Linked DNA regions of Homo sapiens. The protein of the gene in region 1 purifies or fractionates together with the protein of each later gene. This does not show direct contact. Each region holds a gene or a part of one and is shown on either strand. Other genes may lie near its edges.

The links.
Region 2: the proteins of TPRX2 (region 1) and TLE1 purify together in Homo sapiens (affinity purification with mass spectrometry, with the first as the bait; one large-scale study listed by BioGRID). This does not show direct contact.

What each region holds. Positions count from the first base shown.
Region 1 is NC_000019.10:47,857,869-47,862,034, reverse strand, and holds TPRX2 (tetrapeptide repeat homeobox protein 2), read right to left. Parts: upstream 2,801-4,166; 5' UTR 2,789-2,800; coding exon 2,764-2,788; intron 1,923-2,763; coding exon 1,753-1,922; intron 1,234-1,752; coding exon 523-1,233; coding exon of another isoform or gene 471-522; 3' UTR 314-470; downstream 1-313. UniProt on the Homo sapiens protein: Transcription factor expressed after fertilization required for zygotic genome activation (ZGA), a critical event in early embryonic development during which the developmental control passes from maternally provided mRNAs to the expression of the zygotic genome after fertilization.
Region 2 is NC_000009.12:81,583,183-81,585,865, reverse strand, and holds the end of TLE1 (transducin-like enhancer protein 1), read left to right. Parts: intron 1-210; coding exon 211-361; intron 362-1,341; coding exon 1,342-1,418; intron 1,419-1,560; coding exon 1,561-1,668; 3' UTR 1,669-2,183; downstream 2,184-2,683. UniProt on the Homo sapiens protein: Transcriptional corepressor that binds to a number of transcription factors. Inhibits NF-kappa-B-regulated gene expression. Inhibits the transcriptional activation mediated by FOXA2, and by CTNNB1 and TCF family members in Wnt signaling.

The DNA.
Region 1 (4,166 bases):
GGCCAAAAAGACCATGAATAGTCACTATTTAATAAAAATGAGAAAATATTCAAAAAAAAAAACGAAAAATAGTCACTATTTGAAAATGCCTAATACCCATATGAGAATTTCTCAATCTCTCAATCATCAGGGAAATGGATATTACAACCACAACAAAACCACAAGTCACTGGATCGACAAACATTAAAAAGTCTCACAAGCCTCAGTGTTGGGGAGGACATTGACCAGAAGGAGGGCTGGGAAAAGCCCTTAACAAAGCTCTCAAGCGGCATCCACTAATGCCAAACATCCCAGTGAGCAGCGACTCCAGTCTCAGCAGAGAAACGCTCAGGCTCAATTCAAATGACAGGCAGGCACATTCACAGCAGAGCCACCTGTGATGGCTGCACAGTGAAGACAGCAAATGTCCACCTGCAGCAGGGTGGGTAAAGGGTGATGCATTCACTGCAGAAAGTCACCAGCAGTGTAGATCAGCCACTCCAGGCCCTCTGGGATCTGAAGAACTTTGCAGGCACAGGCCCCCTATAAATCCAGTAATGACCTGGGGACTGAGTGATTTTTGTCCACGAAGCCATCCTCCTCTTTGTACTGAGACGTCGTGGTGGAGAGTGAGGATTCCTCGAACCGGTCTAGGAGCGGGAGCAGCTTGGTGAAGTCAGGGTATAACTGGGTGTCTGGCGACAAGTTGGAGGCATAGGGGCTCTGAGGCCACAAGGCGCCTGGGGCTGGGGTTGGGAGTGATCCTGGGCCTGGCATCAGGGTTCGGCCTAGGACTGGGTCTGGGATTGGGCCTGGGCAAGAGATGGGGGCTGGTATTGGACCGGGGATCGAGACTGACAGTGGGCCTGACATTGGGCCTAAATTCGGGGCTGGGCCTGGGACTGGGCCTGGGATCTGGGCTGGGCCTGGGATAGGGGCTGGGATTGGGCCAGGGCCTGGAGCCGGGACAGCCTTGAGGCCCTCCTGTGTTCCACACTCAGGGCCACCCCAGGTCCGGGGGAGGCTGTAGATCTTCGGTTCTGCTGCTGGGAGGACTCCCCAGGGGCCCGGCTGAGGGGAGATCCAGGAACCCCTGCCCTGCGGGAACTCAGGACCCCCAGGGAAGGAGGCAGCGGCTACAGGGACTAGGGGCGCAGCGCGGGCTCCTCGGCCTCTCTGCCCAGGGACGCGCTGGGGCTGCTGCTGGAGCCGCCGCTCCCGAGCTAGTTTGGCGCGGCGATTCTTGAACCACACCTGGGGGGCAGAGGGGACAGGGAGAAGGTGTGAAGGAGGGACTCGCGCGGCCCGGGTGAGCCGCTCGGGGGCGGCGCCGGCCTCAAAACTCTCCCGGTGTTCACCCCCACCCCGCACCCACCATATGAGGGCCCCCGGCTCCCAGGCCTGGAGAAGGGAGGGAAGAGGGAGGGGAAAGTAGGGGGAGGAGGGTGGGGTGGGAGGGGAGGAGCCGGGTCTGCCGCCCAGGTGCCCGGGGGGCCAGGGAGGGTTCCAGGGGAGGGACCGCGGGTTCTCACGGGTGCCTGAGGTCCGGGCACCGGGAGACCCCGTGGGGGACAGCCTGGGCCGATCATGTGGGCGAGTTTGGGCTAGCATAGAGTTGGAACAGGACTCAGGATGCAGCCCGGGTCTACACTGGCGGGACCCCTTGCGTGGCAGGGCGGGAGGTGGTCGGGCGGGCCAGGCCCCGGTGAGTGACAGCGGTGGGGAGGCTCCTTGGGGTGACTGGGGCGGGCGGGGTGGGGGTGGGGGTCAGACCTGCAGCTGTTGCTCCCTGAGGCTGAGCATCTCCGCCAGATTCAGTCGCTGGTCGTAGTTCGGGTACTGGTCCTTCTGAAAGTAAAATTCTAGCACTTTCTGCTGGCTTTCAGTGTAGACCGTGCGCTCCTGCCGCTGTCTCCTTGGAGGGTCCAGGGCCAGGGGAGGGCCTGGGGGTGGGAGGGAAACAGGTCACAGAAACCCCCAGGCAGCCCCCAGCCCCCCTAGGGACCCCGTCCCCTGCGCCAGGCCAGGAGCCCAGGCAGTGTGGGCTGGGGCGGCACCGCGGATAGCAGCCTGGTATCCAGACCAGACCTTGCACCTCTCTGGGCCTCAGGGTCCACATCTAGGAAATGGGCGCGATAACAGCTCCTGGGAAGGCAGGCAGCGTAGGCGCCTCACCTCGGAGCAGACGGGGCTGCCTCAGGCCTGCTCAGCCCTCCCCAGCTGCCCCGTCCCCTCCCATCCAAGGGTTATAGGGACCCTGACACTTGCAGGGGAGCCGCCACCTGCCCAGTCCTCTGCTCCACTCAACTGCATGGTTTAATTTCTTTCCTTCTTTCTTTTTCTTGGAGGGGATCTCGCTCTGTCACCCAGGCTGGAGTGCAGTGATGTGATCACGGCTCAAGTCAGCCTCCACTTCCTGGGCTCAAGGAACCCCCCGCCTTAGTCTCCCGAGTAGCTGGGACCACAGGTGTGCACCACGACCCCTGGGTAATTTTTGTATTTTTGCTAAAGACGGGTCTCCACTATGTTGGCTCGGCTGGTTTCAGAGTCCCGGGCTCAAGTGATCCTCCCACCTTGGCTTCCCAAAGAGCTGGGATCACAGGCGTGAGACTCTGCGCCCAGCTGCATGATTTTTCATTTCCCAGACACCACTAAGTTCTCCCCCGTCTGCAGGACAGGAAGCCGCCCGCACAGGCCCAGCCCTTCTCTGGCTGCCCAGATTTGCACTCTGCAGCCTCAGCCACAGGATCAGCCCAGGCCCCTCACACCTCTGTCCCTGCTCACCTTGGAGATGACCAGGGTCTTGCATCCTGAGTCCTGATCTGTTCCCAAACACAAGTGTGTACTGACAAGGGCTTGGCTCTTAAATCACTTCTCTGCTGTGCCCACCCTGGCCCACCCTGCCAGGACCCTCCGTTTCCCACCCTGCCCTGCAGTCCCGCCCCCTGGAGGAGTTGAATGGTGGATTAATCCCTCATCACTGATCAGGTACTGCCTGCTGAGCTGTGCTAGGAGCTGGGGAACCTCAGTGGACAACACAGCCTTGGTTTCACCCTCATGGGCCCTAGCCCAGGCGAGGTGGTATTCCACATGGGATCGGGGGAGTCAACATCATGACCTGTGGTTGGGGTCCCCATCTCAGGAGAGGCACCGCCAGCCAGCCCCCAGGAGTCATCCTTATTCCTTCCCAGGGCTGGGGCCCCACATGATCAATGCCAGCGAGTCTACCCACTCCTCCCGGCTCCCGGGCTGCCCGCCTTGTCCAGTCACCATCCCTCTCTCCTGGATGACCCCACAGCCTCCTCTTTGGTCCTTTGAGGCCACTCTGGCCCCTACTAGTCATTCTTGAAGTTTCCTGCTCCCCCAACCAGGAGGGGACACAGGTCTGATGGACATTTCCATGGACTGCTACTGATGTATGCAGGGGACCCATTACCTTGGTTCACACAAGTCAGGTCCCTCAGAGATGCATCTGCTGTGTCAGACCCCTGGCTGCCCTCATCTCCTCATAGCAGGACCCACATGGGTTCAGGGGTCAAGGAGATTGACAAGGCTCATGATCCAGGGAGCTAAAAATGACTCATGCAAGGCTGGGCGCGGTGACTCACGCCTGTAATCCTAGCACTTTGGGAGGCCGAGGCGGGCAGATCGCCTGAGGTCAGGAGTTTGAGACCAGCCTGGCTAACATGGCAGAACGCCGTCTCTACTAAAACTACAAAAAGAATAGCCGGGCCTGGTGGCAGGCACCTGTAATCCCAGCTACTTGGGAGGTTGAGACAAGAGAATCACTTGAACCTGAGAGGCAGAGGTTGCAGTGCAGCCTGGGTGACAGAGGGAGACTCCGGCCCCCTCCCAAAAAAAAAGAAAAAGAAATGACTCATGCAACCAATTTCAAAATTCAATAAAACGTAGACATTGTTACCACGGGCCTCGCTCATTGTTTTCACCTGCTACTTAGAGTTCTATTGTAGAAAGCAGCATCCCCAGCAATGATTCCTCATTGCACACATTGTCCGGCTTCATCTACAGGACATGCTGGGAACACAGTAGTGACCACAGAGATTTTGCACCGTGGCTATTTATTTGGCCAATAAAGACATAAGCAGATGAACAAGCTCACTGGTACTATTTTGTGAAGATAGACATTTAAATATAAGAAAGTTCTGCCGGGCGCAGTGGCTCACGCT
Region 2 (2,683 bases), on another chromosome or scaffold:
AGACAGAGGGGTTCAAATGTTTCCAGTTTCCTAAAGGTTTTGACACTTGGTTCATCTGCGTTAGATCACTTGCCCTGTGGACCTCCCCACAGTCTGGACTTGGCTGATTACTTCCCCCCATTCTTGCTATTTCCCCACTTTTCACATTGCGTCTTCCCTTCCTAAGTGTATCAGGCGGAATAATGAGTGAGCCTGTCTTGCTCCTTGTAGATCTTCTCCCTGGGGTACTGCCCCACCGGGGAGTGGCTGGCAGTGGGCATGGAGAGCAGCAATGTGGAGGTGCTGCACGTGAACAAGCCTGACAAGTACCAGCTGCACCTGCATGAGAGCTGCGTGCTGTCCCTGAAATTTGCTTACTGTGGTGAGTTCAGCCGAAAGGAAACTGGAGGCCGTTGATGGCCCAAATGGAAAATGCTTCTTAAAAAAATATGGTAGAGATCATAATCTGGAAAAAATGTTCTCCGAGCAGCTGGATGCAATAATTCTATTGTTTTAATATGCCCTTCAGAGCACAGCAATGTCTGTTTCAGTCTGTTTTGCTAATTTGAGAAAAGTCAGCAGGCAATGTGATTGCCTAATACACGGTTTGGACACAAGTTTGTTTTGGAGGGGTTGGGAGACGACAATGAGTTTCTACTCTGAAGAGGGGTGGGCGGGAATTTATTGAAGAATGGAGCAGGGGCAGTGGAAGTCATTATGAGCTGGCCATGATGAGGAATCCAGGGTTAGAGAAGTCGATATTTAGGTATACGCAGACACTTAGTTACACTCTACTCTACAGTGAGGATGAAGAGGGAAGAAGTTCATGTGGTGACCCTTCTTGTGTGCTGCAGATGGGCAGATATCTGTTCACAGTATGCATAGATGGATGGATGGATGGATGGATGGATGGATGGATGGGTGGATGAGTGCCTATCACTTATTGAGCATTTTTCTTCATGCTATATGATGTGACTGGCATTTTACTTAAGTTGGATGTTTAATCCTTTAATTCCCATTAAAGATGGGAATCTTTAATCCCATTTTATCATGAGGAGACTGACTAAAATAGAACACATTCTTCATTGATTTCTATATTTGAGGGTTACCGTGTGTTGGATATGATGCTACTAGTCCTGTATCCAGTGACTAAGGAGGCTGATACCTCTTAGATTATACCCAAGATCACTGATAAATCACTGAGGAGCCCAGATTAAAACCTCTGTTCATATCATGGACCAGTCCTTAGGGCATGATAGTTCATATATTAAAAATGTTCTTAGTTTGATTAAGTCCAAGTTGCTAATTGTATAGTAGGAATTTTAACCTTGTGAAAACTAGATATTCCTTTGCTAATTCTAGGTAAATGGTTTGTGAGTACTGGAAAAGATAACCTCCTCAATGCTTGGCGGACCCCCTATGGAGCCAGCATATTCCAGGTGAGTAAGTACTCCTCACCTAGATCCACAGTTTGACCACAGTGTCGCCTCTGAAGCCAGGAGTGAAGGTGCCTCCGAGGGAGCAGGGCCTCTGAGTACCGTTGTTCCACATTAAACACATGTCCATTGTTTTCTCTTCCAGTCCAAAGAGTCCTCGTCAGTGCTTAGCTGTGACATCTCTGTGGATGATAAGTACATAGTCACTGGCTCGGGGGACAAGAAGGCTACAGTCTATGAAGTCATCTACTGAAAACATTATGTGGTTTAACGTTTATAGTTGAATTGGGCCAAAATGTTTCGAATTTATAGAAATAGAAAAGTTGTAACTTTAAAAGAGAAAAAAAATTACAAACACCTGTTTCCAAACCTTGACAGAAAACTACTTTGAGTCTACAAAGAGGAGGCGACAAGTCCATCAGCAGAAAGTCACCTGTCTACATAGACCAAATGGAGCACCAAGGCCAAGCGGACAGAGGGGCCATGGGTTGTAGGATTGAGGAACGGAATCTGCCGACTCACATGACAGCCCATTCTTTCTTTCTGGGTGATCTGGGGATCACGCCTTGCCCAAGTGTGAGATTACCTTTCTGTTCCTTGCAGTTCACCTCACTTTCCGTCCTTTGTAGAGCAGTGGTGTCTCCAATGAACTTGTTTCCTGGTTTTGCATCTTGTGAAATGTTTTTTTGTATTTTTGTTGAAGGTTAAACATTTGTATAAATTGTAAATATATTTGGTTTATTACAGTAAAGGCTTTAGTACCAATAAGTGGTTTTCCTTTTCTTTCTTTATTGTTTTTTATTAAAGCTTTGGGATCATCAATGTGGGTTTTATAAGCAAAGATTATACATTTGTAGAGGAAGTTTTGAATTGCACTGCTTATTTTATAAATATATTTGGTGGTAGGCTCCCATTGCATTAGAACCTAATCCTTCACAAGCTTGAGTTACTGGGAGCTCAAGACTAGGAATTGTGAGTAATTGAAGGTTTACTAATGACAGTTTTCTTTAGGAAAGTAAAATTACTTCATCAAGATTTGTTCTTTTGTTATGATACTATTGTGATTCAAGGTCAAAGATTAAAGCTCTACTTTTTTCTGGTGATTCATTGGAAGGCAAAATATTCCTTTTTCTAGGAAGGCCCAATCTCCTCTTCCTTTTCCCTTTCTCTTTCCCTTTCTCTCTTTCTTTCGTTCTCTCTCTCTCTCTCCTTTTTTTTTTTTTTTTTTTTTGTTTAAAGATTTGAGTTCACATTGTTTGTTACCCAGG